Regions from separate parts of the Homo sapiens genome. Here all the other regions are linked to region 3. The links come from fine-mapping of genetic effects on gene expression. A gene starts in region 3. Each other region holds a variant in brackets. All regions are shown on one strand. Distances are from middle to middle. Region 1 overlaps PKIB (cAMP-dependent protein kinase inhibitor beta). Region 2 overlaps PKIB (cAMP-dependent protein kinase inhibitor beta). Region 3 holds the start of PKIB (cAMP-dependent protein kinase inhibitor beta).

The links.
Region 1: its variant is fine-mapped to the expression of PKIB in blood mononuclear cells (TOPMed, PIP above 0.99). The same link has a PIP of 0.9 or more in lung.
Region 2: its variant is fine-mapped to the expression of PKIB in whole blood (INTERVAL, PIP 0.92).

Annotation. Positions count from the first base shown.
Region 1 is chr6:122,704,424-122,714,577 of GRCh38, reverse strand. All of the region lies in intron 3 of PKIB (cAMP-dependent protein kinase inhibitor beta), which reads right to left. Among named protein-coding and RNA genes, the nearest start is that of FABP7, 70 kb to the left of the region's middle. The variant C/T (reference allele first, on the strand shown) is at 4,335.
Region 2 is chr6:122,665,417-122,675,915 of GRCh38, reverse strand. PKIB (cAMP-dependent protein kinase inhibitor beta) reads right to left here. Exons shown (of 5, transcript NM_181795.3): 3 at 772-838. Among named protein-coding and RNA genes, the nearest start is that of PKIB, 60 kb to the right of the region's middle. The variant C/T (reference allele first, on the strand shown) is at 6,244.
Region 3 is chr6:122,605,427-122,615,925 of GRCh38, reverse strand. It overlaps PKIB (cAMP-dependent protein kinase inhibitor beta), which reads right to left and starts at 5,521. Exons shown (of 5, transcript NM_181795.3): 1 at 5,391-5,521. RefSeq lists an enhancer at 4,229-4,874 and a silencer at 5,491-5,670.

The DNA.
Region 1 (10,154 bases), 99 kb before region 3:
TATTTCAAGATTATTTTGCTGCTAGCTGACTGCTATTTTGGAAGTTTTTCCTTTTGCCTTTATATTATTATTTCACATAGAGGCTTTCTAATTAGTCCTTTTTGTAGATCGATGCTGGAAAATAAAAGAATCACAAAACTATCTAAAAGTTTGTTAAAATTATATTCATTAACTACTATTTTAAGATCGAAAACAGAAGTGGCCATATAGGGAGGCTAAGTAACAAAACTGTTTTACTTCGGGGCTGTACTTGGCTGTGGCAAACTCACATTTGGCACAATCTTCCTTTCAGTCTGCCACTGATATTGACTGACCAAGATGTCATGCTTCACCAGAGGCAGACCGAATAGCTAACCCCGCCCAGCCTCACAGCGATGTAGGAAGATGGCACTTTCTACAGAGAAAAGCTATTTTCCTGACCAAATGTGTCAATGGCCTAGAAATTGGTGGCAGGAATATTTGAATCCACAAGGTGACTCTTAGCTGGGCTCTTTAAACTCCAAAGCAAAGAGATTTATTGTACCACTGGAGACAACCTGAAAGCCCAACAAGAAAAAAAGTATCTGAATAAGCTATGTAATTATGTTATGGAATGTTATACCACAGTGTTAAAGAATGTATTAGATCCACTGACACACTGTGAAATAAAGCAAGTTTAAAAATTAATATTTATAGGGGGAAAAGGGGAGAGCATTATGAATGCAATGTAACCTCAACTTTATACAAATAATAAAAATTCTAGTTGGGAACGGAAGGTAGAACAAGGAAAATATTAACCTTTTTCTCTACCTCTTTACATATTTTCACTTTTACTAATGAGCATATATATTACCTTTGTAATTTAAAAGAATTGAAAAATCCACCTGGAAAAATTATAAATAAACAGATATTCTAGCACAGAAAGGCTCTAAAAGTAACATTTTGAAAATTTAACCAAATGATAGCATATCGTTAAGTGAAAGCTTCTCCTTCCCCCAGTAGCCATCTCTCATTTGTCTGTTGTTAGTTTTCTATACAACACCGATTGCACATGCTTGGTTTTTTTAAAAGGGGCGATATACATATAGAAAACAGACAATTGCTCTCTTCAAATGGCTTGTGATAATTATAATATATAGCCCACAGAAAGATGAGGAAATACTGCAGAGAAAAATGACAGATTAACTTGAGGGTCTTTTCATTTTCTGGGCTTAAATAGCTAATTATGTTATGTTTGCCAACCAAGGCAGCTGACTCACTAGCAACTCTTCCTCTTTCTCTTCTAGAGAATTAACAAAGGACTCTAGATGAGTGCTGCTTTGTCAACTGTGGCTGCTTACAGGAGCTGGAACCATTTAGACATTTGGAGATTTCACAAAAGTCCTTGCAATCCCACAGCAAGGTAACGCAATTTACGTTGCCTGAGACACACTTCTATCTCTATTGAAAATATACAATTTTCAGGCTGCTTGAGAAAAGACTATTACACAGTCATATATATATTTATATATGTATATACACACATGCCAGCATCTTTACAGTCTCTGAAATATTGAGAATGCAACATCAGCACTACTCAAGAGGACGAGATGTTCAAGATAAATGGAGCACTAAAGGCTATTAAAAAATCACCAGTCAGAACCCAGTGGGCCCCGAAGAGCCTGCTAAGAAAAAGAGGATGTTAGTATGTTAGAAGCATAATTATAAACAAACAGAAGTTTTGCAAACTGTTTCCTCCCCACAACAGGTCCATTTTCTTAATTCAAACACATTATTTTCTCAAGCTTCCTTACTTGAAGCCAAGATTGCAAAATGGTAGATCCATTCTTTTCTCATCTCCAGATACATATCACTCACCCTATCTTCCACAGTGAAACCATTGCTCATTTTATACCTAAGACTTCAAATAAACTTCTTGCCCGCTAAATTAGTTCCCTGGAGGTATGAGTCAGACTTTCTGAAAAAACACAAAATAACAAAGAAGTAAAAACATGCATTTTGGAAAAAATGTCAGTGCTTTTCCTGACCAAAGACTAAGAGAGAAGGAGAGACTGACAAATGGACAGACTGACACTGGTCTCCCCTGATAACCAAATGCCTTATCTACCTCTCTCCAGCTCTCAGTATCCTAATCCCTTATGCTACATGTTTTCAGTTCTCTGCCTACGAATTATTTATTTCATATAATTTTCTGTTTTGAAACACACGAACCTCTTCCAAAAAAGGCGAAAGAACTAGAATTACTTCTTTATGTGCCAACAAAAACAGATCATTATTTATTCATTCAGTCATCTCTTGAGCTCCTACTAAATTATTAAGTGCAAAGCCTTGTTGCTGGCCCACAAGTTACAAAGAGGAACCCAGAGTCTGGTGAGATGAGACACAGTTTGATCTTTCTAGTTACCTTTCTTGACCTCAAATCCTATTATTTGGAAATAAAGTAAAATTACCCACTCCTAAAATGTAAATGCTTTACATATCTCCTATTCACTTAAGTATCAAGATCATTTTAAGCTAAACAGAACTTACATGAAATGTAGACCTGCGTAATTTTTTTCAACTTAGAAACTTTCCTGTCTTTGAAATTTTTCAAAAGATGGTATTTCTCTGTCTCTAGTGTAAGTCAAAGGGAACCCTACCTTTGGTTTGTTGACACGCACATTTTTTAATGTTTATGTTCTTGCTTGCTAATTGCATAGACAGATCCTTCAATATACATTGGTAGGCACATGGAAGTTATTTTTACCACAGAGAATTTTTGACAGCTTAAACATATAAAATTCAAAATGCAAAGTCAAATTAATTTTTTCATAATTTTCCAGATAAATTAATGCACAAAGCTGAATACCCTTCCAGCACAATGTTACTTCTTATACTAACATAAGGCCACTTACAATACTAATATACATGAATGTTGTTAATGATAAAAAAGATGGACTGCAATAAACTATGTAGCCTCCTTGAGTATGTGTCTGTGTTTGGGGGAGTCAGATTTAACTGGTCATCTTATTCTTTTTAGTTTCATACTAGAAAGACTTATTCAACATGTATCCTCCATAAAGGTTTGCAGGGAGTTAGTTGGGCTTCTCCCAACCACTTGCAGATTCCCAAAAGGACTAATAAATTTCTCACATGATTGCAGGATATTACATTTGAAAAGATGATATAGTCCAGACTTCCAGATCCAGACACTTAAGTGATGCATCAATATAACATAGCTTAATTTGTGTCAAAGTCTTTCCTAAGTTTAGGCGGTACTCTTTCTTCCATTACCATGATTCCTCCTGCTGCTTTCCGTAACAAAAAACAAAAACAAACCCAGCTATCTACAGGGATAAAAATAAAAAAGAAAATTCACTGTATATGAAAAAGTCTTTCTAAAAATTAAACAGGTTTCCTTTTTAATACATTAGCTTGAGTGGGGTGTGTGTGTCCCTGTGTGGTGTGTGTGTTTGTGTGTGTGTGCTATGTATATTGGGTGTTATCCAGAATACAGTGATATTTTCACTTCTCCTTTAGATGAATATAAGTGGTTATAACCATAGCAAAGCATCCCTACTGTCTACATTTTATATAGTTTAGCTTTTATTTCTAGCTTCAGAGTATTCAGAATTGAGAGGATTTAGCACGGATTTGAAGAAACCCTTCTCATTCTTTTTTTCCCACCTTACCTCAAACCCTATTTATACTCCTTCACTTTCATTTGTTTCACATTATTCTTTCTAACCAGTGACTCAAATATTGTTGGTTCTTATTTTATTGAGGTACTGGAGCCTGCTTAAAGAAGTTAGGGTTCAATTCAAAAAGCATTTATGTAACACCAACTCTGCAAAGCCCCACGCTAGATACTGTGGAATTTGGCACAGTAAGTAAGGTCTTCCCATGCCTTAACTGGCAGTCTGTGAAGGCTGCGTGCTAGCACCTTTACCACGTGAGCAGTGGAGGCAGCGCTTAATTCCAGGATAGAAAATGAGGCCAGGCTTCACAGGGAACACAGCATTTAATGGAACCCCAGAAAATAAGTAAGCAAATTTCAGAGAAGGGCTGCCCTCAGACCACCCATTTCTCATTTAGTTGCTTTTCCAACTACTATTGTACACAAAGTATTCTTAGATTTCAAAGGGGGCACAAATACACTCCAAGTACACAAAATCCCCAGCACTGAATTTGCCCTAGTGGGAAAATAATGTGATTTTGAAGTTCTTGTGTACAATGTGATTTTGAAGTTCTTGTGGTCTGCTTGTACTCTTCCCTACAAAGAGGGAACACGGCCGTCTGTGTTGGGGGTTTACATGCAAGGCCTAAAAAGTCAGTTCCCTTTTCAATGAGATATATGGTTTTAAAATGTCAAATGG[C/T]GGTTTATGACATCAGTAGGAAGAAGAGAAGGGGAAGTTAATTCTTACCAATGTGGTCACAATAGAAATGGCTTCATATCCCTCTGCCTAGTAGAGAGACTGGAACATATCTGCTTAATACAATCAATAAATCAATGTTGAATTAATAGCTGATACCTATCGATTATGAGCTGAAAATGAAGGTCCTTTACATTATTAATATTCATAATAAAGATCAAAAGTAAATAAATAATAAGACTGAAAGTTCAGTTATTCAGTATTAAAATAGATTTTGTTTTGTTAACATCAAAATAGATAGGAGTCAGGCTGTAGACTAATGGCAAATACAATGGTTTTTAGATGTGGGTAGTAAACCTGGATTGGTAGAGCCAGAGCAGTAGTTGCTGCAAAAACTCATACAGTACGACCCTCATCTAGGACATCTGATGGTTATACACATGGACACTTTAAATTTTAAACTTTCATTTCAGAAAGCATTTATAATTAATATATACTTATTTATCTTTCAAAGGGAAAATGCAGTGTGATACCAAATAATAGAACTATTTTTACTAACACACCAAAATTTATAGATGGAAATGAGTATCATCTATCAAAGCAATTACTTTAAGTAGCCACATATTTATTCCACTTCTGAAACTGTTTTTGTGACTCCATCATTGCAACTCATTTTATACTCATACATCAAATAGTGGTAACATGTTCTATTTAAAATATAACGTATTTTATAGTAAACTGTTTTTAATTAAAAAAAAAAACTCCCACTTGATCCCATCTCTTTGTACTAAGAATGACTTCAGCTACTTTTCAAAACCTCCTTAGGTAATTTAGATTTGCACATATTCAAAATAAAACTATTTTAAATGATGATTTGAAAGCAGAGCTTTGGGCACTACTTAACTGCATTAACACACTCTCAAAGTGACTGCCCTTAGTCCTCTTGTTTGTTACACGGTCTATATGGAGCAATGGGAAGTTTGGTCGCCTAAAAGTGAACACTTCTGAAGTTGAATCCTGGACTTTCAACTTCTAGAAAGACATCTAACTTCTTTGTTGATTAGCATTCTACATTTTTAAAAAGTAGGATTTATATTATCTATTTTACTACCCTGGACTCAAATGAACTAATGTTATAAATGTGCTTGGTTAACAACTACACAAATGGAATTTATTTAGATATCAGTCATATAAATTTATAGGCACTATGACAGAGTATCATTATGAATATCAATTATTCTTTTAAGCAACAGTGTTGACGTGGCTCTAGAGACAGCCTCTGATGTTGGACTGTAGGCAGAAAGAGATTAACGCAGCTGGGCGTGATGGCTCATGCCTGTAATCTCAGGGTTTTGGGAGGCTGAGGCAGGCAGATCACCTGAGGTCAGGAGTTTGAGACCAGCCTGGCCAATATCTACTGGCCAGTATCTACTAAAAATACAAAAATTAGCCAGGCGTGGTGACGCATGCCTGTAATCCCAGTTACTCAGGAGGCTGAGGCAGTAGAATCACTTGAACCCGGGAGGAGGAGGTTGCAGTGACCTGAGATCACGCTACTACACTCCAGCCTGGGCAACAGAGCAAGACTCCATGTCAAGAAAAAGAGATTAACTCTGAGACATTTCCAGAAAGTTGATATTGTTTAAAAAGGCATTCAAAAAATCATTTACAATCTGCTTCCCAGCACACCCTCAAACCTGTCTACGTTTCTGCAACATCTGAACCATACAAGTCACCAGTCACAGAAAACCATATCTCCCCTACACTGCCCATAGGAAGATTTCTCCCTAAAGGTGAAATTTTCACATACTTTCAGAAACAAACCATGTTTCAGTGTTCTCTCCAATGGTTAAAATGGGATTGAAATTCTTGATTTCTTCATGATGCCTAAAAAAGCATTCTTAATCTGAGTAATATTAAAATGAGATAATATGGCATAGGAAAAAGGGTCACAAAAGATAATATTGACAGAGTCCTGCTTTCTCAGTGGGGCTTGCTTTAACCACCTTGTTTAAAATTGCATCTCATCCCTCCAGCTTCTAATTCCTCTTACTTTCTCTTAGCACTTACTAGCTTTGAAAATGTATTCGCATTTACTTATGATTGCAGTTGTTGCTTATTGTCTGTCTCCCTTCACTAGAAGGTAAGCTCCACAAAGCAGAGCTTTTGTTTTTGTAGGTTGTTTCATTGATGTATTCATAGGACCAAAAGCCATGCCTGATTCTTATTCAGCAAGCACTCAATAAATAAAATAATTGTCTTTCCACTTTTCAACATGAATTTTTTTTCTTTTTGCATATGACATTAATATATGCTTGTTGTTGGGAAAAGGACAATTCCAAAAGACATAAAGAAGGAAAAAGAGATTGCCATCCCGCTATCCAGTAACAGTGCTGTTGTAATTCTGGTGCATAACCTGCCAGAATTTTTTCAGCGGCACATATACAAGAATATCACAACATATTTTACACACCATTTAGTTTGAAGCTAGATGATATTTATTTGATATCATTTTATTATATCTTAAAAATGCAATCTTTCTCAAATCAACATAATTCAAAATTTCTAATGACAGTTTTGAAAAAATAAAATTTTCTTGAATGTTAACATTAGAGAGCATATACCAACTATGTAAAATATGCATAGCCAAAAAGCAAGGAACATGGCTGAGTACTGAAATTACTTATAAATGTTTCTTTAATCGGATAAATAAAATGGGTATAAAATAGATAGGTATAATGCTTTTTTAAATGCACCCACAGTTTCGGTAGTGTCTTTTTCTTCTATTTCATCAATTTAAAGAAAAACTCTTAGGATGTCTCTTAGCCCATATTTAAATGAATATAATATTCATTTTTTTCTTCCAACAAAGAAAAGGAGAGAAATGATTAAGCCTTTTTGAGCTCTGATTTGTTTTCTAAGTTATCTTCGGTACTTTACAGAAGAAATCATTATAACGTTGCAGCAAGCAAAAAATTCAATCAAAATTATGGGAACAAAAATTAAGAGTAGTTTTGAGAATTTTTCTGGGTCATAGAGGAAAAAAAATCCCAACCAAAGGGCAAACAACTTTAGAAAGAAAAATCATCTAATTGAAATATTTTTTCATCAAATTATGCATGTTTATATTAACCTGCAATTAAGTTAATAGAAGTAGCATTATTTAAATTGATACATTTAACTTTTATAAAAACATTTTGTACAAAATTATGTTACTATAGTCCTTTAGTACTATATAAGTTAAATAGAAAAATGAGGCCATGAAAATATCTAAAATATTTAAAAACATAAATTTTCAAAATTTTAAAACCACTATGCATATATTAGTTTTAAAATACATTCACAGAAAAACATTTTAAGGGAAATATACTGAAATTATAATAGTTATTCCCTTTGTGTATGTTATTATTAATGATTTCTATTTTCTTCGTTGAATTTTACTTTTTTCCAAATTTTCTATAATGAAGATTTTTATGATATGAAAAATGGCATATGCATGTGTTAAGCATGCATTGTTTTAAAGCACTTTATTGAGAATTTGTTCATGTGATTCTACACTGTGGATTAGTCACTACTGTCTTCATTTTAAGGGTGAGGAAACTGACGATCATAGAAATAAAAGGGTTTGGCTAAACCTAGCTAGCAAGTAACAGAGACAAGACTGGAACCCATTTCATCTCACAACTCATTATTTTCTCCTTAAATTACACCTCAGCAAACATTTATTGAGCACAGACTCAGTCCTCATTCAATCAATTATTGTTAAGCATCTACTATATCTTCCGTTCAGTGCAAGACTCTGGGGAAACAGTGGCAAATAAGACTAAGCATTGTGATAGAAACAGTGGGGACACATGAAGATGCTTAATATATGGTCCCCACCCTGAAAGAGTTGTGAACTCATCGTACAGATGGAATATGTTGCATATTAAAGGAAATGTAAAAATAGAAGTAAATATATGATATATTCAAATAAGTGTTATAAATAAAACTACTATAGAAATGTAAAAGATAAATGGTTACTGAATTTTGGGGTGATTAAGGAATATTTCACAAAGGCTGTAGAACACACACAGAGCCTCAAAATTTGGGAGGAATCCACACAGGTAGAAAGGGAATGAAAGGCTTACTAAGCCAGAGAAATATCTGTAAGCTAAAAGAGGGGAGTGCAAAAAGCAAGTTCTAAATAAGAGAAAAGGAAACATTTCGCTGCCATGGAGTGTTATGCCCACGTGGAGTTGGAAAAATGAGTTGGAGCATAGTCATAACATAGTGGGAAAGAAAATGAATGCCATGAACAATATGTGAACGTATCCTGTAAGCACCAGGGAATCATGAAACTTCTAAATCACATAGTAAAGGTGTGTATGAGATGCATTTTCTGGCCAGGCGCAGTGGCTCATGCCGTAATCCCAGCACTTTGGGAGGCCAAGGCAGGCAGATTACAAGGTCAGGAGATCGAGACCATCCTGGCCAACATGGTGAAACCCCATGTCTACTAAAAATACAAAAAATTAGCTGGGCGTGGTGGCATGTGCCTGTAATCCCAGCTACTTAGGAGGCCAAGGCAGGAGAATCACTTGAACCAGGGAGCTGGAGGTTGCAGTGAGTCGAAATTGCGCCACTACACTCCAGTGTAGCCACAGAGCAAGACTCCGTCTCAAAAAAAAAAAAAAAAAAAAGATGCGCTTTCTGAAAATAGAGACAGATGTCAAGGAGAACCATTAAAGCATATTAAAAGGTGAAGTTTTTAAATCAAATCTACCACAATAGAGTAATAAGCTGATTCCAAAAATTTATATGAAAATGCTACAGACTGAGAATAACTTCTTATTCCAAAAAGAAAGGAAAAAGTAAAGGACTTACACTATCAGACTTGATGGCTATTAATTCTGTGTGGTATTCCTCAAGGGTAGACAAATAGAATACAAAATAAAATAGACACTCTAGAAATAGACAAATACACTCTTATTGTCCATTGATTTCTGAAAAAGGCTTTGATTATCAATGTGGTCATTGAACCATGATGATCTTGGAGGACTCACAAAGGCACCACAAAATTAGATATTGGTGGAGAAATTTTTGATCATGGAAACAATAGATCTTGTTTATAATAATTTGTGACAAAAATTCTAAGGATTATTAAATAGATGGCTTTCAGCTATAGTGTTTTTCTGGTATATTTTATTTTTAGACAAGGTCTCCCTCTGTTTCCCAGACTGGAGTGCAGTGACATGATCACAACTCACTGCAGCCTCAATTGTTTGAGCTAAAAGCAATGTCCTGTCTGCCTCCCGAATAGTTAGAGCTACAGGTGGGCAGCATCACACTTGCCTAATTTTAAAACTTTTTGTAGAGTTGAAGGATGGTCTTAAACTTCTGGCCTCAAGTGATCCTCCCTCCTTGGCCTCCAAAAGTACTGGGGTTTCAAGAAGGAGCCTCCACCTGATTCAATGATCAACACTTTGCTATATTTAATCTCTCTAAACATAAACACACACACACACACACACACACAGTTATTATTTCACCAACTGAAAGCAAGCTGCCATTAACATGACACTGCATATCTAAATACCTTAGCATATATCTAAGTATTTAAGAATTGGTCTTCTGTGTATATCCATCATACCGTTATATTTCCACAATGTTATTTTTTTCATGTTCCAATTCCTGAGATAATTCACCTTTTCTCCTGGAGTTTAGCCTTTGAAATTCTTTTGGGAACTATAGTTTTTTGATGACTGAAAAGATCTATTTTTATCTTCATTCTTACAAATACACTATTTTAGGATGAAAGCACCTAACAATATTATTCCACAT
Region 2 (10,499 bases), 60 kb before region 3:
GCTGCTTTACACCATCAACTCTGTGTTCTTAAATTCAATATGCTGATTATTTGCTTTAGTGCTATAATAAAACTTCATTAGACATGATTTTTTTTCAGGGAAAAAAACATAATTTTTTTTCACTTACAGTTTCTTCTAAATTTATCTAATAAAATATTTGTTTGTGAAAATGTGTGCTTGTCTTGAACTCTGGTAAATTAAAATAGAAAAAGTCTCCTAGATTCCTCATTCGTGAGTTGATCAGTTTTGGGTATAGGACAATAATAGGCCTTTCAGAACTATGATGAAACTGCATGGACCTTAGTATTATGAGACCTAGTTTTGATTTTTAAAAAAAATTCACCAAAAGTGGTCATAGAAAAGCCATATTAACTTTTAACAGAATACTATTTCTTCCCTTTCCTGTGGACCTCTTTTTCTCTTCCTTCTCATTGATGTGACAAACTCTCTAAAATATGTAGACACACATGTATCTTCACAAAAGGAAAAACGATAATGAAAAAGACATCATCAAAGAGAAATGTCCAAAGAATAAACCAAATATTTATGAGCTATAGATAGACTTGGTGAAGGTTTTCTAATTGAGGCTTTGGTTTATTTATTTTGTTGTTTGAGGAGTGGTAGATTTTTGCATATGTATTACTCTCATTCAAATTTTGCATGCCACTTCAGACTAAATATCCATTTCCTGTCAAGTGTTTTATGGTAGGAACCATTTCTTTCACAAAATCAACATATAATTTCCTAAATAAAGAAGAAAAGGATACTTACAAATCTCTGATTAAAATATGTTGTTATTTCTGAGACAGGTTTAAAAAATTCTGATAAACTTTCTTTCCTGCAAATTAAAAAAAAAAACTATGAAGAACCAGAAAAGGTGGCAATCCAGTTAATCAAATTTTAATTACTTTTGGCTTTTTAAAATATTTAGCTAAAACTGGTAAACATCATGACTTGCCTGACTTTCTCGGGAAAAGCCGAACCTCTAATTCAAACATAAAATTTTCTATTAAAAGTCAAAAGGATCTTATTTCAAATAACAGTTATTAGTTCCCAAGATTATCAGCTACAAAATCCAGTGGATGATTGCTGCATTGATGCTGTTAAGGATCATTGCCAGGTTGAGAAATCATCGTGTAAAAACAACTGATCATTACAGGAAATATTTGTAGCCACATAAAAATGATTGTAGGACAATATTTGGCATGATACCACCTTTGGAAGTTTGTAGAAACACACCAGACTTTGAGAATATAATTGTAGAGAATCTTCTGCACCCTCCATAAGTATTCTAAGGCATTGTACCAATATTACCAGTACCCACATAAGGATCATGTCAAAGGAATCGAACCATCTTGCTCTTGGAAATCAAAGTAAACTACCTATATATTATTCCTATTCACAGAATGGGCCTTATATTTCAGGACTTAGCATCTGGCATAAGAAGGGTGAAAAATAATGGGAGTATGAACCGTCGGTATGCACATTAGCCACTCATAGCAATAAGGCACTTTGCAAATTCCCTTCACCACACTCTCACTGCCTTAGTTCAACCTACCATTCACTCTTCCTGGACTGTGGCAACAACGTCCTAATGATTTTCTTGTATGCATTCTTGCTTCCTGCAAATCCATTCTTTACACAGGTGTCAGGTAGAATTATTTCAAAGTAAATATAGTCATGATCATTCTACAATTAACCCTTATTAGTTTGCCTATCACCTACAATATCAAGCCCAAATCCCTTCACGTGGTACATGGTGCCCTCCAAGAACTAGCCCCACTCCACTTTTCCTTCCTTTTCACCCATGCCCAACCTCCACCAATCCTAAAACTCTGCAGTCACACTCCACCAGTAGAATCCTGTGCTTTATTTCTGTCACCCCTGTGGCTGAGTTTCTTTGCCCTCCATCTCTTCCCCATCTCCTTGCTAGTATATCTTCTTCATCTCTTCTGGGTCAACTTGGGCAACCCTTTCCAGAGCCTTCTATGTCTTCCTTAGTCTAGGCAGGTTCCTTCCTATGTGCTCTAAAACACTCTGGTATAGATCTGTCTTTGTGCTTATCACAGGCATTACACATTTCAGTTTAGTGTCTGCTTTTCTGCTGCAAACACATTTTTTTAAGCCTTTTGAGGGCATGGACTGTGACTCATTTGTCTTGTTCCCAGCACAGTGTTTCACAGATGGTAGGAGGAGTGCAATAAATACCTGTTGAATGTCAAGGTGCATTAGGTGTTTTTCAGACTTGGAGCTGCCTGAATGCGTATTTTACCACCTTGGAAGAATTTTAAAATTAAAAGCAGACATCATTTTAACCTTGTTCCCATACTCAGTTTCTCAAATGATCTTTGCTCTTCCTCTCACTCTTTGTCTGGGACTTTTTCCTTCAATGAGTCCTATATGTCCAGACCAAATAAAAGGAACTGAGAAGAGGAAGTGAGAAATAAATGAAGAAATGATGATACAGTAAGTAGCAAAAAGATAAAAATTTGTAAACTTCAAAACTTATATAATGTAATGTAAATATACACACCTAAAAGACATGATTAAGAAAACAAAATTTTGTAGTCTTAATATTTTCAACCATTTGGATGCAGCTCTTGGCAAAGATCTAGTAGAAACTATAAATAAGAATCTAGTTTAAAGTCTGTTAGATAAAAGTAAACATTGCTATTTGCATTTTAAAAATGCATGTTTAAAATATCCCTATAATTTTATAACCTTTCCATGATTAATTTTTTTTACAGAAATCCACCTATCCTTGTCTATTGCAACACAACCAAAATAAAAAAAAATGAGTGAAATAGTTATGTTTTTCCCTCTCCACTTCTTTCCAGTTTATTTTACAAACAAATATACCTATGTGGTGGACTTTGAAAATATTTCATCCATGTTTTTTATTACTAATGTACATAAAAATTCAGATTTAATGAAGATATGCTTAACACAAAAATACTAAAGGTTGAGACTGTGAGAGTCTCTACTCATCCTTTAAAATATCACTTATCAAATATTTTACTAATGAAAGTGCAGTAATTCTTGGGAAGATTTCAAGAACAGTAGCACGCCCCTAACAAATATAAAAATAATTTTTGTGTGTACATATCTCCTATATATGAATATTTATACTATAAATTATAAGTATTACTATCCTAATAGTCTAATATAACTTATTTGCTATATTATTATTATATATGTTAAATACATTAACAGACATTAAAAATAAAATATAAATAGATATAATTAGATGTTCTAATATTTTTTCATGATCCTCAGTGTACGATGCAGAATTTGCATGTTTCTACCACACGAGGTCTGATTCTTTCTCCATTCTCTCTCCTGAAACTACAACTAAATCAAGAGAAAACTTGGTGATATACATGGAAGCTAAGACATATCAACAGCCAAAAAGCCAGTGGACTCATCAAGGTGTATTGATACCCTTTACAAAGGGAACAGATCAAAGTATGGGTGAATCAGCAGAAATTTATCACAGTAGAAACACATGCACATTCAGAATTAGCAGAGATGTTGAATGTCATTTAGTTCAATCATTTTCAAACTATTGTTTTTAGATGAGGAATATTTTCTTTTTAAATGAACCCCTTAGCAGAAGGCCTACACTCAAGATGGATGCAAGCAGAACTGCTCTGGGTACCTCGGGCTTCAAGGTCTGATGCTCTACTCACTCCCTTCCCTACTCTTCTCCTCCTTCTCAGGGAAAACTACATGTCTACACTGCCACTTTAGAGATGAGGCTACCAGGCTGGAGATGGAACAAGAGCAGCCTTTTCAAGAAAGATATAATAATGTAGCTAAAAATATTCATCTTGGTGCTTGTCCATCCTCCTTTTTGATGGACAATCAGTATTTGCTTGCAGGAACTGATTTCTCTGCATGTCCCAAGCTGACCTCAGTTGTAAATATAAATACTTAAACCATTAACTAACAGGAATTAAGGTAATTTTTGGTACTAGGGTTTGGTAAAACAATAAATACTTATTTTTTCTTCCAAATATATATTTTCTAACTTGAGTTTTAATTACTCAAGCAGCCAGCCATGTTAACATGCAAATAACATGCATAAAGGAGAAGAATCTATCAGGTCTGAAGCACAAAATTTCAGGGGGTGCCCAAAAGCTCAGAAATCAAGATAAATAACATGTAAATGCCATACACTGTAAAAATAGAAATTTATGCAAAGATCTATGATGAACAAAATATCAAAGTTTTAAATACAGATTTAACCCTGAACTTGTATAAGTCAGCCTCATGTATCTCACCTGGTTCAGTGACTTCTCTGAAAAATGAATTGTAAACATAAAAATCATGTCAGGTTAGTTACATTATGCAAATTTCTGCCTCAAAACACCAAGGACTGTAGAAGGAGAAGGAAATGTAGTTTGGAGGACAAAGTTCAGTCAAAGGCATGTTCCGGTAAAGGCTTTTACACTTCAGTCTGTAAGACTGGGGATCAGGTGAGGTTGCTTGGGAACAAATAAGCAACTAGACAACTGTAACACGAGATAAGACCTAACCTATGCTTTCATTTGAACTATTTTACAATGTCAATGAGCTACTAAATCTAGTTATAGATACTTCAATAAGTATTTTTTTTTTTTTTTGAGACAGAGTCTTTCTCTGTCACCAGGCTGGAGTGCAGTGGCGCAATTTTGGCTCACTGCAACCTCCGCCTCCTGGGTTCAAGCCATTCTCCTGCCTCAGCCTCCCAAGTAGCTGGGATTACAGGTGCCCACCACCACACCCAGCTAATTTTTGTATTTTTAGTAGAGACAGGGTTTCACCATGTTGGCCAGGATGGTCTCTATCTCCTGACCTCGTGATCCGCCCACCTCGGCCTCCCAAAGTGCTGGGATTACAGGCGTGAGCCACCGCGCCTGGCCTCTTCAATAAGTATTCTTTTAAATTTTTGTTTTGTTTTTAAAAGCAAGGCATAGTTCTAAAATACATAAAACCCTGAAAGTTAAAATGTATCCACTGAACATCATCTGACTATGTGAAGCAAGTTAACCACTTCAACTGTAAGACCTAGTTTTAAAAGTCTACTCTTAAGAGGATGCATTTAACCTCTCAAGCACTACAATGGTGAACACAATCATCACAGAGATGAATCATGGTGACATTGAAAATGATGTGCATTCATGAGGATGTTTTCTGTCCACCAACTCAAATGAACTAGCTTAGGAGAATGAATGACTCTGCCTGACACATAGTAAGTACTCAACATACATATACTAAATGAATAAATTAATGAAATAATAAAAGTTGAAAGATGGCTGGCAACAGGTATACTAGGACCAGATTATAAAGAATATTGAAACAGAGACTTCATGCTGTGGGCCACTGAGCAAAGGTCTGATGAGGTTTAACAACAACAACAACAACAACAACAACAAAAACATGTGATTCCTTATAAGAAAGAATGGGTGATGGGTGGATTGGTAGTAAGCAAATAGCAAATCCAGCAAAAGTTTTTAGAAATAGCCTTGGCAATGGGCAATAAGGGCCCACCAAAGGGTGCAGACTATAAAACTGGAGGAAGACGAGTGTAGGGAATACTGCTGGCTGGCTGCTATTTGCTCCTCTCCCCCTTTCTATAGAAATAGAAAGTTTAGCTGGGTACACAGCCACAGATAGTATTACCAAGCTTTCCATGCTGCTAGGTCATGCAACTGGATTTCTTCATTAAATATGGCTAGGTGCAGAAGTGATATACTCCACTTCCAGGTTACATACTGAAAGAGAAGGGAATGTGGTCTCTCATTCCTCTTTTGCCCTTTCTGAAAACTGGACTGCATCTGTTGCTGCGAGTCATGCTTCATGAGGTGGACAAACACAATACCTTGGAGATGACAAAGCAACTAGATAGAAGGGGCCTGCATCCCTAACCTGGTTAAGCCACTATACCAGCCCTATAGCACCTGCCTGGATTGCACATAAGATAGAACTAAACTTACATTGCGTTTCATCCACTGTCATTTTTGGATTTTGCAATAACTGCCAAACTGATGTCGGAAACTAATATATATGGACATAAAAAGAATTTACAAAATGGAAAAATCCATGGAATGTGGTGATAGGCTACACCGAATGAGGGAGAATGATGAACTCAAACAATTTCAAGGTTTTATGCCCAGGGAACTAGGACAATACTGGAACCACCAACAAAATAACAGGTGAGAGGGAGATGGGTGGAGTTCAGATGGTGGAAAACAGCCAAGG[C/T]GGGAGCTGAAAGTATGGGCCTGGAACTCAGACAAAAGGAAAAATTTGAAAATAGAAATGTCAGCAATTTTGTATAGTATATACAGATGAAAATGTGAAAATTAATAGAATCTAAGACTAAGATCAGAGAATGCCAAAAGCTGAATGATGGGGTATTCTCACAAAAGGCAGAAGAGAGCAGCAGTAATCAGCAAAGGTTAAAAAAAAAAGAATGTTATTATCCTACATAGGAAAGGGTTAATGATTAAAACCATGGAATAATAGAATTAACCTTGATTCAAGCTGACAAACAAATTTAAAGGGAATCTAATGTGGGCTAAATGTCTTAAATCCATTTAAAGCTCCCAAAAAAAACTGAAGCAATCATTTCTTGAAATAGAAAGGCATTAATTACAGTTCTGAACAAGCCAGATCTCAATAATTTCTTTAGTTTAAATTTCCAGAATTCCAAGAGAAAAAAAAACACCCAACAGATACCTATGACATTCTGTCCTTTTTAAATTCTCACAATAGAGGAAGAAAAGAGGTGACAAGAATGAAGGGAAAATGAAGCATAAGTGCCTTTCTACTCACATATTCTTTCTAGGAGGCTGATTGTTTTTGTTTTGTTTTGTTTTTTTAATAGGAATGGGGTCTCAATATATTTTCCAGGCTGGTCTCAAACTCTTGGCCTTAAGCAATCCTCCCACCTTAGTCTCCTAAAGTTTTGGGATAACAGGAGTGAGCCAACGCACCCAGCCAGGGGCTGATGTCTGTAAGTAGAAATGGCAAATTGAAACAAATCCTCCTCCTCAATTTTTATTGTTTCATTGGAAGATATGGTGATTTAAATTTCACATTAAGCTTTGAAGTTAATAAAGTTGGCAACATAGAAGCCAACTGTTATATATAAGAAGAAAGAGTTTGGGAGTCTGTATCACTTGTGAGATGTGCTAATATTCCTGGAAGGTCATCAGCATTCCAGAACATTCAGGCAATGTTATACTAGGCCCTCCAACGGTTCTTCTTCCCCACCTGGCTTGGTTGATCCAACCAGGAGGACATTTTTTAGGGAGAAGTCAGACCGAAGATTTCTGTTTTGTATTCCACTGTCCACTTCATATTGACAAAACACACCATTTTAGCTTTTTCTCTGAAGATTGTTTTCTCTCTAGTTTTAGTCTGCAGAATGTGTAGTATAGCTGCTTAAGGGACATCAGGAAAGACTCCATTTTTCTTTACCAGAACATTTTCATAAAAGTCGATCATACTAATTCACTTAGTATGAGAAATTGATATCCCTCTCTCTTCCTTTGAAGAGAAATCGGTTAGGAATCTCCTTTTTCTCTTCACATAGTGACTGCATTATCCACGGTCTTTCCAATTGTTTGGAAGACAGTTTCACTGTTGTTTTTAGTGTTATCCTTGAATCCTATATACAGTATTCTTTTAAACTCTTAATACTGGTACACATTTTGGGATTCTAAACCCTGTCATTTTTTTACTTAATGACCAGACAATACTTTTCACTTCTCCAGGTAGATCAGAGTGTGAAAACCTGCTCTAAAATGACCTTTCCTTTACATATGGTTGCAGAATAGCTGAACAAAGATTGCTGTACACCAAGAAATTAGCTTGAGGGGAAAGAAACCTTCTTTTCTTATTTTGAGTTGGAGTAAGAGAAGAGTGTGTATATGTTAAGTGGGAGCAGGGTAGAGGGTGGGGGTTGCATTTCATGACACAGCATTCGACACACAAAATTGCCATTGCTTCACTCCTGTCTGTCTGTATATCTTTTCAGGTGTGGCCTGTGTGGTTCTAGAATTCCTGGCATTTAAATATAACCTGAAAGCCACTCAGATCAATCTGGAAAGAGCTTCTCTTTACTTTTTTACCATGTGCCACATAAAAACCACAGCACCAAAACAGCAGATTCACATTTTTTTTGTAAACTATTCAGTGCTTCTTAATGTTTGCTTGCAAAGCCTCAATAAAAGAAGTAACTTTTAATTTTTTTCCATAACTATTAAACTTCTTAGCTTATATTACTTTCTTACCTATATTATAATCCTCAAACACCAACAAAAAAGTTCATAAGCTTTACATTATCTTTCATCTCACTTACAACTTTTATTTTTATTTTCATTTTTATTTTTTTTGAGACAGTCTTGCTTTGTCCCCCAGGCTGGAGTGCAGTGGCGTCATCTCGGCTCACTGCAAGCTCCGCCTCCCGGGTTCATGCCATCCTCCTGCCTCAGCCTCCTGAGTAGCTGGGACTACAGGCGCCCGCCACCACGCCCAGCTAATTTTTTGTATTTTTGGTAGAGACGGGGTTTCACTGTGTTAGCCAGGATGGTCTCGATCTCCTCGGCCTCCCAAAGTGCTGGGATTACAGGCGTGAGCCACGGCGCCTGGCCGACTTACAACATTTTAATAGGTATATCTGAGGTTAAAGAGGAAATTGTTAGGCATCACAGTTAATTTTGATGTTAATTATAAAATAAATTGAAAAAAGTTAAGTCTAACCCCAGTATTGTTACATACATAGACGCATTATTTCCATCTGGCATCTATAAACATTTGTGCTCACAGAAGAAGGCCAATGAAAACTATGTTAAATATAAAAAGGAACATACCAACTCACTGGGAGGAAAGGGAGCAAACAATTGTGGAGTGCCCATGACTTTCTAGATGCATTAAACATTCTCTCACTGAATCCTTTCAAAAGCCATAAAAAAAAAAATATTAGTACCATTGGATGCCTAAGGAAGCTTGAGGTTATAATCGAACCAGTGCCAAGCAAGGTCAAGTCATGAATCCAGGTCTGTCCGCCATATGGACTTAATACTAGTAGTAGTGGTTGACTAAGTCGATTCACAGGAGCAACAAAAAGAAATATACTTTTCAGACTTTGTCTGAAAGTAAAGTTGATGAATTATACTTTAGAGGTCACTTTTGATATATCCCATATTTTTTCAAAATGGTTTCTATAAGATACCCTCTTAGCATTATAGATTAATACCAGATGTTCACTCCCTACCTTGATAAGATCAGTAACCTGCTCAAAGGAGTCTGGTCTGTTTCAAAAAGCACACAGAAATGCGCCCATGAGGGCAGCTCAAGACTACTAAGAGATGTGTTGTCATATTGCGTATCCACCAGAAAGTGACTTGATAGACTCCTAGAGGTGGAAGAGAAGTAAAACAAAAACAAAAACAAAAACAAAAACAAAACACAACTAGCACATATCCCCAGTTTTAAAAAATGTTTTTGAAGTAGATATTATATTTTTGTGCCCTTTTGAGTCAGTCAAGATACTGCTATTAAACGGACATGATTTTGGTTAGCTAAATGAGCCCTTACAAAGCAATAAGCCCTTTGAACTTCAGTTTCTTCTTCTGCATAGGTAACCTGTTGGAAATTTAAGGGCTTTTGCAAGGTTAACCTGTTTGAATCTGGCTGAGAGGCAGTGTCGATGGTGAGTGCACTGGGCAAAGGAAGTCAGATGGTCATAAAGGTTTGGTCATGGAAGGCTAAGGCTGGAAAAGACTAACATTAAAGACAGTATAATGCTATGCACACGAGCTTTGGAGACAGACTGGCTCTAGAACATAATAGCTATATGACTTGGGGAAACTCGGCTCACATTTCCTTATTTGTACTGTGGAAATAAAACTTCCACTTCACAGGATGTTGTGAAGATTAAATGAGACAATGTCCGAAAAGTACTTAGTGTAATTCCTAACACATAGTAAGTGCTTAATAAACAGAAGTTGCTATTATGACTATTCTTTATACCGAAGGAAAAACTGTGCTTTAGAAGGTTAAAAGACTAGCACAAGGTCACAGGCCATTCCTTTACTGAGGTGTCAGGTTAGGGGGTGGAGGATAAACTCAGCTTCATCAAAAAACAATTACCTCTAAATAACCAGTTATATGCATAGGACCAGAAAATATCTATGAAAATTTCAAATGCATTTTCAGTTTTTTTTTCATTAAAAACTGACTTTACAACCAACTTTCTTTTTTCCTTTCCCTAACGTCTGTTTCCTTTCAAAACTAACACTGTGTGAATTCCTGTGTGATTTTGATCTCATTATTTTTTGAGCTGAAGGTCTCTCTCCCGAGTCTACTTTGTCCTAACATTGTCATTGCTATTTCATTCTTCTATATCCTAGAAAAAGCACACACAGCAGAGAAATGCATTAGAAGGATCTTATTCAGAAGAATATTTCTTTGCTAACTATTTAACATGCTGCAGATTTAGATGCTTTTAT
Region 3 (10,499 bases):
TTTTCACACAGTTCAGAATGGCAGCAATCCAATCAACTGTCAGTAGGGTTGGTTCATTTTTGTGGAATCAGAGGGGAAATCTGTTTTATGCCTCTCTCTTAGCTTCTAGTGGTTGCCAGCAAACCTTGGCATCCCTTGGTTTACAGTTTCATAACTTCAATCTCCCCCAGCATTGTCATGTTGTCTACCCTCTATGTGTCTTTCTCTTTGTGTCTCTTGCCTCTTCTTATAAGGAAACCAGTCATATTGGGTTAAGAGCCCACCTTACTCTAGTATGACCTCATCCTAGCTAATTGCATATGTAGTGATCCTATTTCCAAATAAGGTCATATCCTGAGATTCTAGGAAGGACGTGAATTTTGGGGAGACATTATCCAACTCAGTACACCCATGAAGTCGCCCCATTCTTAAACCTGCATGTTTGTAAATTGTGCCAGCTCTCACTTCAAGCCAAGAATCTGAGAGGCACTCTTCATTCTCATGTCTTCTTAACTTCATATCCCAACTACCATCAAACTCAATTATTTTCATCTCCTAATATTTCTAGAATCTGAATACTTTTCCTCATCCCTAATTCTGCTGCCCTGACTCATTCAGCATCTCTTGCTTGGCCTACTAGAGCAGTCCTTCCAGTAGCCTTCAGATGAAACCTCCCCAGGATTACAACAGTATATACATATGCACAGCTTCATGGCATGTTAGAAAGACATATTTAAAAATTTTTTTTTTCTTTTCACTACTGCAAAAAGTTCTACTACTTCACTACAATACACAGAATTATCATAGACACCCTTCTTCAAGGATGATGGAACTGAAAAGAAGAGTGGTTTCTGTGAAGTCCTGGCGTTTATAAATTTTGGCTTGATAGACTTTTTGCAAACCCTTGGAGTGTAACAAAATCCACCATACCTATAATCTGGCTTTTCATTAGATTTCAAGGCCTTTTTGGGAAAAGTGAGAAAAGTAGGGCTTATTTCAGCATTTTAAAATTTAATATTATACCTGGCTCCAGAAGCTCCATGGTAGAGGTATTTATTTTCATTTTAAAATATAAAATAAACTAATGTAATACACTAATGTAATTGCATGAGTTGTAAGCCCTCTTTACACACACATGCACATACACATACACACACACTGATTTTAAGATTTTATGATTTTAAGAATTTTAAGAATGGTGTTTTCTTCTTCTGAGATGTATTAGCTCAATCCATAAAATTTAATCTAGATATAAATTATTTTGTGACCATTAAAATATAAGCATGCTTGAGAAGACTACCTAATTATTTCCTGTCTTCCATGGTTTTATTCCTGAAGCTATCACACTGGACTTCAGTTCTCCCTTTACTTTATCCAAAAAAAAAGAAAGCCTACAGTTTACTTACTCCCACACCCCCATGGGGATGCTTACTCCCACACCCCCACGGGGATAAGAATACTTTCAACAGCATAGCCAATAAGAGTGCTTAGAAGAAAGCAGAGACTGCAGGAAGGGAGAGTCTGGGAGGTACAGGAAGGAATCCAGCTCCATTCATATTGTCTGTAGATGCTTCTGTTGCTGCTTCTTCAATTACATTAAAACTATCTTGGCTACAGACCACATTGTCTTAAAGAATCTCCATTTCCTTGGCCCTCTTTCCAATCTGAGAAATCCTACTTCTAACAGATCCAGGATTCTAGGTGAGAATACCTCTTCCCGTTCAGGAAATTATGCAAATCTAGATTGTTTTATTTTTATCTAAACATCTCTGAACTCTCTTCTCCAACCAAGCACCCAACTCTTGGGCAATGTCACATTTTTACAACTAGGAGTGACTGAAGAACACAAATCCACTCTGCTCTGGGCACATAATACTGCTATTTGCCACTTGCTAGAATAAAAAGTGTACCTCAGTTCAGTAAAAAGTAGCATATCCATTTGATTTCTCAAAATCAACTGTAATTCTTTTTTTTTTTTTTTTTTTTTGATGGAGTCTCACTCTGTCACCAGGCTGGAGTGCAGTGGTGCCATCTCAGCTCACTGCAACCTCTGCCTCCTGGGTTCAAGCGATACTCCTACCTCGGCCTCCCAAATAGCTGGGACTACAGGTGTGCACCACCACACCCAGCTAATTTTTGTATTTTTAGAGAGACGGGGTTTCACCATGTTGGCTAGGATGGTCTCTACCTCTTGACCTTGTGATCCGCCCACCTCAGCCTCCCAAAGTGCTGGGATTACAGGCATGAGCCACCACGCAGGGCCAAAACCAGTTGTACTTCTAATAAAAATAAAAAATAGTAGCTGTCTTTGATTTTATGGGGATGTTCAAGTGCTTAACCTAGATTATTTCCATGTAATGTCACTACCTGGTAATGACTTTTTTAAAGTACATATAACATATGAAAATGTCTGAAACTAACAGGATTTAGAGGAACATGTACTAATGGGGGAAGTTTTAAAACAGGAAAACCAGAGCCCTGGTCTAATATGTGATTTTTGTATATGGAAATCACTTACTCTTGGGCCTTAGATCCCTAAATCTACTAATAGAATATGCTTAATTATTATTTAAAATAATTATATGGAATCATGATTAACAATGCTTATCACAAGACATATAGTTCACAAGACGTATAGTTTATTTTTGATGTTGAGGAAAGAATAATTTTGTTTTTTCTAACTCAATTAAAATTTTGCATTGAAGAAATGGAAAACCACCGAATTTATTGTCCAGCCATTCAGAGCTGGCTAAGTCTCAACACTTAAAATACAATTTTCAAACTGCATGCTTTCTCATTTTCAATTGACATTAATGAAAATTTAGTCTTGATTAAGCCTGATTCATGCTCATTTAGCATTAAAAAACATTAGGCAAGAAATATCTCGTTTCTGAGAAATATTGCGACATTTTTTTCAAAAGTGTTTGCTGTACCTCAGCTCTAAATTTGAAGAGAAGCAATGGTTCCTCTCCCAAGCCTCTCTCTATATACATATAACATCATATATGATCCAGTAAGAAACATTTATTTTTCCAGAATTTTTTAAATTTTTATATATATAACTTCTACAAAAATTACTCTATAGTGTTCCTTAAAAGTTAGACACAAGTTTGTCATACAACCTACCAATTTCACTGTTAAGCATCTACCCAAGAGAAATGAAAACGGGTACTCACAAACACTTGAATGCAAATGTTCTCAGCAGCATGATTCATAATATTCCCATATTGGAAACAACCCAAATATCCATCCACTAGTAAATTGACAAAATGTGGTATATCCATACAATGGAAAACTATTCAGCAATAAGAAGAAATGAAATACTGATACATGCCACAACATAGCTGAACCCCAAAAACATTATGCTAAGTAAGAGAAGCCATAAGCAAAAGACCATATAGTATATCATTCCATTTATATAAAATGTTCAGAAAAGGCAAATCTATAGACTGAAAGTAGATTAATGGTTGCCTGGGAATGGGAGTGGGAACAAAGACATAATGGACATAAGGAATCTTACCAAGTGAGTAAACTGTTCTAAAACCAGATATGGTAATGGTTTTACAATTTTGGAATGTTCTAAAACCAGATATGGTAATGGTTTTACAACTTTTAGAAAATTAACAAATTTTCTAAAACTCACTGAAATATAATTTTTAAATATTATTCACCCTTAAAGGGTGAACTTTATAATATATAAATTATATCTCAATAAAGTTGTAAAAAAATGCTGTAATGCAAACTGCGTAAGAATTTAAATAATTGTAAGAACTGTGAGGAAAATTAAATTGATCTATCATTGATCTAAACAATATGTTTGCAATCGACTAAAAAGGAGGAAAAACTCTTTAACAAAAATGAAATTTGACACATTTTAAAATATTCTGCATAATGTGGTCCATTAGTCTTTGATATTTTATTGAAGAAAGTTGTGGTAAAGATAAGATTGAGAAGTCCATTACTAAAAACGTTTTCCAAAAGATTTCCTTTCCAAAGCTATACTTTCCTTCAAAATCGAATCTTTTGAACTTCCAAAACACCTTTTTAGCAAATGATCTCTTGAGATAGTGTCACTAGGGGGGCATTGACCAGCACCCGGCACACTAACAGGAAACAAGGTTTATAAACTGCTGATTTAACCAAACTTGATCCATAACCTACCCCATTTTCCGTGAGCATTATGGTCATCAGTTCTCATTTTAATAATCCAAATGCTGAGCTTTCTAAATATAAAATCCCAGGAGGATTTTTTTTGAATGTGTGGCAATGTCAGTAAGAAGGAAGGCATCTTGTGAAGAGATAAAGTGGACAGATGAATTTTGAAATCTATCTGTACACGAAGAGAAATGCAATACTCGCAATATTTCTAATTCAATACCTTTCAGTATGCAAACCACTGATAAAAGAGTTTTTTTAAAATTTTTTTTCTAGATGAACGTTTAAGTGGTCATTCGCCTCAAATCTCCACTTTCCAGTCCTGCACAGACTCCAGCTAATAACACTACCACCTGCAGGGTGTTTTGTTGTTTGTTTGTTGTTTGTTTTAGTGCTTCCCACATGCCTAGTTCACGCATGCACTTTTCTAAAGGACCCGAGTTCCGTTGGCTGCGTTCCCCGGGGAGCTCTACGAAGACCGGTCTGACCTGGCCCTCTCAGCTCCCTTGGAAGGGACCTGCTGCAAGGCAGGGTCATTTGGCTCCGAAATGCACCTTCAGGAATTTCCCCAAGGGGCTAGCATCAGCACCAACCGGAACACAGGCCCTCCGCTCCCTCAGCCCGCGACCACCTGGCACTCGTGTCCCTCCCTGCGGCCTGCCGGGGTCCTAGGAGCAGGGAAAATCCAATAGCTACGGGCGACCCTTGAGTTTACTCGGTCTACCCACCTCCATATTTTATCCAAAGAATGGACGGAGGCCAGTGAGGTGAGGTGACTTGGCTAAAGCCACACAGCCGGACGCTGGCCGAGCGGGTTAGTACTCGGGTCTCTGCTAACCCCGCGGCCGCTCGTGACTACCCGGGGCTTGGTAAGCACCGCCCAGGGGAAAGACTTGGCATTGCTGGCGCGAGAGCCGAAGGACTCAGCGACTTGTGACAGGAGGTCATCAATGGCCACCTGCAGGGCAGAGTGGGCAAAAGGCAGGTGACAGACCTCCCACGTCACGCCTGTTGGCGTGAGCGTCCTTTTCACTCTCTAAGTACCCTGACTTGTGAGTTAAACGATGGATCGGGTCGCCCAAGCGAAAGAGGCATCTGCTTCGAACTCCCCCCATATTTGTGCCAGCAGGGCAGAAAATAGGAAAGTTGCACTTACCACATCTTCCCTGGGTCAGTCTCCCCCGACTTCCCAAGTCCCACTCCTCCCTCCTCGCATAGGGACACCCACTCACGCGCCCGCTCCACCAGGTACGTACCAGCCGCGCGCAGCTGCCTGCCCTGCCGGTGCCCTGGCGCTCGCGCTCGCCCAGCGCTCTGCGGCCCGGAGCTGCGACTCGGGCTCTAGCTCGCTGCCGCCTCTACAGTCCACCGGGATGCGGCCGCGTCTGAGCTACTGGGCTGGGGCGCAGCCAGGCGGTGGCAGCTACTCGGGGGCGGAGGGAGCGGCCGCCGCGTCCCGCCCCCAGGCTACGAGCGCGGCTCCCCAGGCGGTGTCCCGCTCTCCGTGCAAACCGGGCCACCGCATCACTCCCCGGGGCACGTGCCACGGTAGCTTTTTTCTGCTGGCAGCCTGGGGCGAGCTCTTTTATCCTACTTGTGCGTTAACCACCAACTAATTATCGGTGATCGTCACACAACCCGCGTCCTCCCCGCCCGCCACTCCCAGTTCCCTTGGGCGATGATGAGGTTCTGCTAAGATTTCTGTGACGTGACTGCGGGAATTTCAATTCCCTTCCTGCTTTCCGACGTCGCATCGTGTTTTCTGTCCCTCCGGTTGTACGCGCCCTGAGCAGGGTTTGTGCTCCAGGTGTCATTAAGGTTGCCCTTTGATCTAATGTTGGCTGTTTGGAGAAGGTAGGAAGGTACACAGGCTTATCTACGCCCCGAATCTGGGTCTTCGAGTTTGTTAACAGATTATTTTAACAGATTAGGAAGCAATATGCAATGGAAACAACTTTTTGTGCAATAAAAGCAGAAAATAATGTATATCAAGTTTCACTTTCAGGTTCTCACTAAGAAAAATAAAGTCGTTACTACTAAGGTCTCACTGTGCTTTTTAAAAGCCATATTACATGGACGACGATACTGCTGATAAAATTAATTTATCTGCTTCCTGAGAAAGTGGTTTCTCACTGAAGTCTTAAAATCTCCTCTGGTCTCCTGAAACTCTTAATTAGTACTCAAAGTCTTCTCTTATCTCTAGTCTTTACTAATTTGCTCATTCATACTATGCTCTGACTTGCCACCCAAAGCCTATGACACCTGCCAATGACCACTTCCAAATTCCCTTTTTAGGCAAAAGCCTAAATATGGAAATACGAAAATATAATCAGACTAATATTTTATTCAGTGTGTGCTAATGGTAGTACAATCAAGTTCTTTAAATTATTCAATATTCATACCTCCACAATATAGTAATAATTTTCTCTATTTTCAGATAGTAAACTGAGGTTCAGCAAGGTTAGATACTTTGAACAAGGCTAAATAGCTGAGAAGATTCCAAATCAGTTTTGAACTTAGGTCTTTCTGCCTTCAGGATTGATTGACTTCCTTAAATTATACTCTGCTAATAAAGCTGTGATTTTTCTGAATTGTGATGTAGGCACATTTTGTTTTGTATTAGGTTAGTGCAAAAGTAATTGCAAAAAAGTACTGGCAAAAACTGCAGTAGCTTCTGCACCCGCCTAATAAAAATATAGTTACTTGTGTGGTTACACAAGCATTAATCAAAGAGACTGAGAGTTATTTATATCATTAGTGTAACTTTAAAACTTATTATCTGGCATACTGCTAAGGCCTGTTATTATTATATTATATAATAACATATATTTTTATTATCTAGGGCAAATTATTCTAAGGTTTATTTATTTTAGAGGTACTATGACAGAGAGTGATACTAAAATGTTTGAACTTATGAATTATGGTATCATGATTGGATTTTTATGATCCTGCAAGTGTATTTCCTATACTTGAAAATTTTGCTTTGTAAAATCTGTATTTTGGGATCAATGTGAGAAAACCACTAGACCTCACTGCTAAGCTTTTAACCTACATATGAAATCATCAGAACCACTGGAATGTATGGCCCATGAAGGCCATATCCTCAACACCTAGAATAGTACCTTCACAAAGTAGGTACTCTACAGGCCGTTTTGAAATGAATAAGTATTAACTTTGTTTCCACACTTAAGACCAAATAATGACTTATAAGAACACTATTTATAGAATGCTTTTGTCTATTTAGATTTAAGATTTTTGATGGCCTCTCATTTCTACTAGGAAAGTAAGGAGAAGATGCGGAAAGGTTTGCAGTAGCTGCTTTTGCAAATGTTAGACACGACCTGACCATAAGTGCAAGGAGGAGTTTTTGAGTCCAAGAATTGGTGGTAGCAGTAATTCCACACAATCATGTGAATTGTGAATTTGTGTCAAATATATGCCTTTAAATGCAGAAAGTTTAATCCAACTTTGGGATTGTGCCAAGTGATGTGATGAAAAGACAAGGAGCAAGCTTGGATACTATTTTTAAGACAAGGTTTTAAGGTTAACAAGAATAAATAGGAAAATAAGTGAGGACAAAGAGGGGAGAAGAAGGAAGAGTCCAAGAACTACAAATCCACATCAAATGAGAGAGATAAGTTGTAGTCAGGAAATGGGATCGTTTTCTTTGAAGTTTTAGAAGTACAAAGATAGACAGTTTATGGAAGAGCTAAGGGTGGGGTTGGCTGACGTAGAACGAAGATCAAGACATTAGGGACTAAGGTATTGAAGAAACTATATGGACATTGAAGCCACCAACAGTAATACCAGAATGAAAAAAGGAGTGAGTTTGATAACAAACACTTCCGTGAATGTAGTGGACTGATCCAGAACTGAGAGGATGACTATGCAAAGTTGGGGCAGAAGGTGCATATCCAGGGAGGAAAAACGTAAGTGGATCAAGGACTGGTAAAAGAGACAATTAAGACTTCAGAAGTAATACTGGGGAGTTACAAGGATCCCAACACTGCCCCTGTGACCCTAGAATGTGAAACAATGAACAGTCTATATCAAAGGGACATCTAGGGGAAATAATTCTTAGAAGAAAGCTTATTTCCACTTAAGGCCAGAAAATGGAGAAAGCATTGTGTAAATAGTTTATGAGGTTGGTGGTATTTTTCAATATTAAATGAGGATTCTCCAAGGTCAGAGTAGTTAAGAGGTGGGAGGTAGGGCTGGCTTCGTGGGTCTATGACCTGTTCAGTTGAGCAGGGATCTACGTGTTGTTTGTTTTTGAGACAGAGTCTGACTCTCTCACCCAGGCTGGAGTGCAGTGGCCCAATCTCGGCTCACTCCAGACTTGGCCCCCCAGGCTCAAGCAATCTTCCCACCTTAGCCTCCAGAGTAGCTGAGACTACGGGCACACATCACCACACCTGGCTAACTTTTGTGGGTTTTTTTGTTTTGTTTTTTTGTTTTGTTTTGTTTTGTTTTGTTTTTTTGTAGAGACGGGGTTTTGCTATGTTGGCCAGGCTGGCCTCGAACTCCTGGGCTCAAGCGATCCACCCGTCTTGGCCTTCCACAGTGTTTGGATTTCAGGCATAAGCCACATGCCTTGCTCAGGATCTACTTTTAAGAAGGCCCTGTGCAATGTTTAATGCTCCCCTGTCCCTGCATTGAAATATTTTATTTTATTTTATTTTATTTATTTATTTATTATTATTATTTTTTTTTTTACCAAGGGGACTTGCATTTTCATCTTTCATTGAGCCCAGCAAATTATATAACCAATGCTGTGTGGAAGAAAGTAGAAATTCTTGCATGGGTGAAGCAAGAATCAGTATTTACCTTCTAGGGATTAAAGTTTGGGAAAGACTAAATGCAGAAGTTTGTATTTTGAGGGAAGACCAAGAGATGCAGGGAGAAGGATGTGGCTGCAAGGTTTCAAGTGAGATCTAGTTTTCACATCTCTTTAGGGCCAGGCTGGCTGACACCTGGGCAGAAGAAGTGGACAGTAGTTACCATCATCATACTCCATGTTTTTATATGCTGGTGGGTTAGTTTTTTTAGGGTTGCCATTAAAAATTACCACAAATTTGGTGACCTACACCAGAAGGAATTTATTCTCTCACAATTCTGGAAGCCAGAAGTCTGAAGTCAAAGTGTTGGCAGGGTATCACTTCCTGTAAAGACTCAGGGGAGAACCCTCTTTTGTCTCTTCTAGCTTTTTTTTTCTTTTTTGAGACAGAGTCTCACTCTGTCACCCAGGCTGGAGTGCAATGGCGCGATCTCTGCTCACTGCAACCTCTGCCTCCTGGGTTCGAGCGATTCTCCTGCCTCAGCCTCCCAAGTAGCACGGATTACAGGCACATGCCACCACACCCTGCTAATTTTTGCATTTTTGCAGAGACGGGGTTTCACCATGTTAGCCAGGCTCGTCTTGGACTCCTGACCTCAGGTGATCCGCCTGCCTCAGCCTCCCAAAGTGCTGGGATTACAGGCGTGGGCCACCATGCCCAGCCCTCTTCTAGCTTTTAATGGCCACAGGCAATCCTTGATTGTCTTTAGCTTATAGCTACATAACTCCAATCTCTGCATCCATTTTCACATCTTCCCTATGTTTCTTCTCTACTGTTGGCATTGGTATTCCCCTCTTCTTATAAGGACATTTGTCATTGGATTTTGCATCCACCCAGTTCATCCAGGATGATCTCCCCTGGAGATCCTTACTTTAATTGCATCTTCGAAGATCCTTTTTCCAAGTAAAGTCAAATTCACAGGTACCAGAGGTTAGGTCATGGACATATCTTTTTAGAGACCACCATTCAGTCCACTGTAGCCAAGTCTATGGAGGCCAGAGGAATAGCAAGGCTGGATGACACTGGCATGATAGCTCTTCAGGTCTATTTGGCAAAGATAACTACAATAATATGAACCTTATCAATGTTTCTAAAGCTTTCAAACTGTGATATTTAATACATATGAAAATCAGAAGATTAGAGCTGCCCAGAGTCTTTACACCCCTGAGAGTAGCTATCTGCCTTGGGGACAAAAACCACTGAGAAGTCATGTACCTGGGACAGTGAGAAGTGTGGTTACAAAGAACTGAGGAAGTTGGCTTCCCTCTTGGAGGGGAGGGGAGGATTCGCCCACTCTCCATTCCAGAGGACATATGTGGTTCCTTGGTATTAAGGGAGAGTCTACAGGATGACCATATCTCACCCTTTCCTAAAAATATAAGATTCAGAAGGGCTTATATATGAAATATAAGATTCACCTGTGGGAGAGGCTGGGCTAGTTTCTCAAGCCGTACCTTGTAAAGGAAAATTTTTTAAATCCTTAGAGAGGGAAGAAGGAAATGTCGAAATCAGTGCTAACTTTTCCTC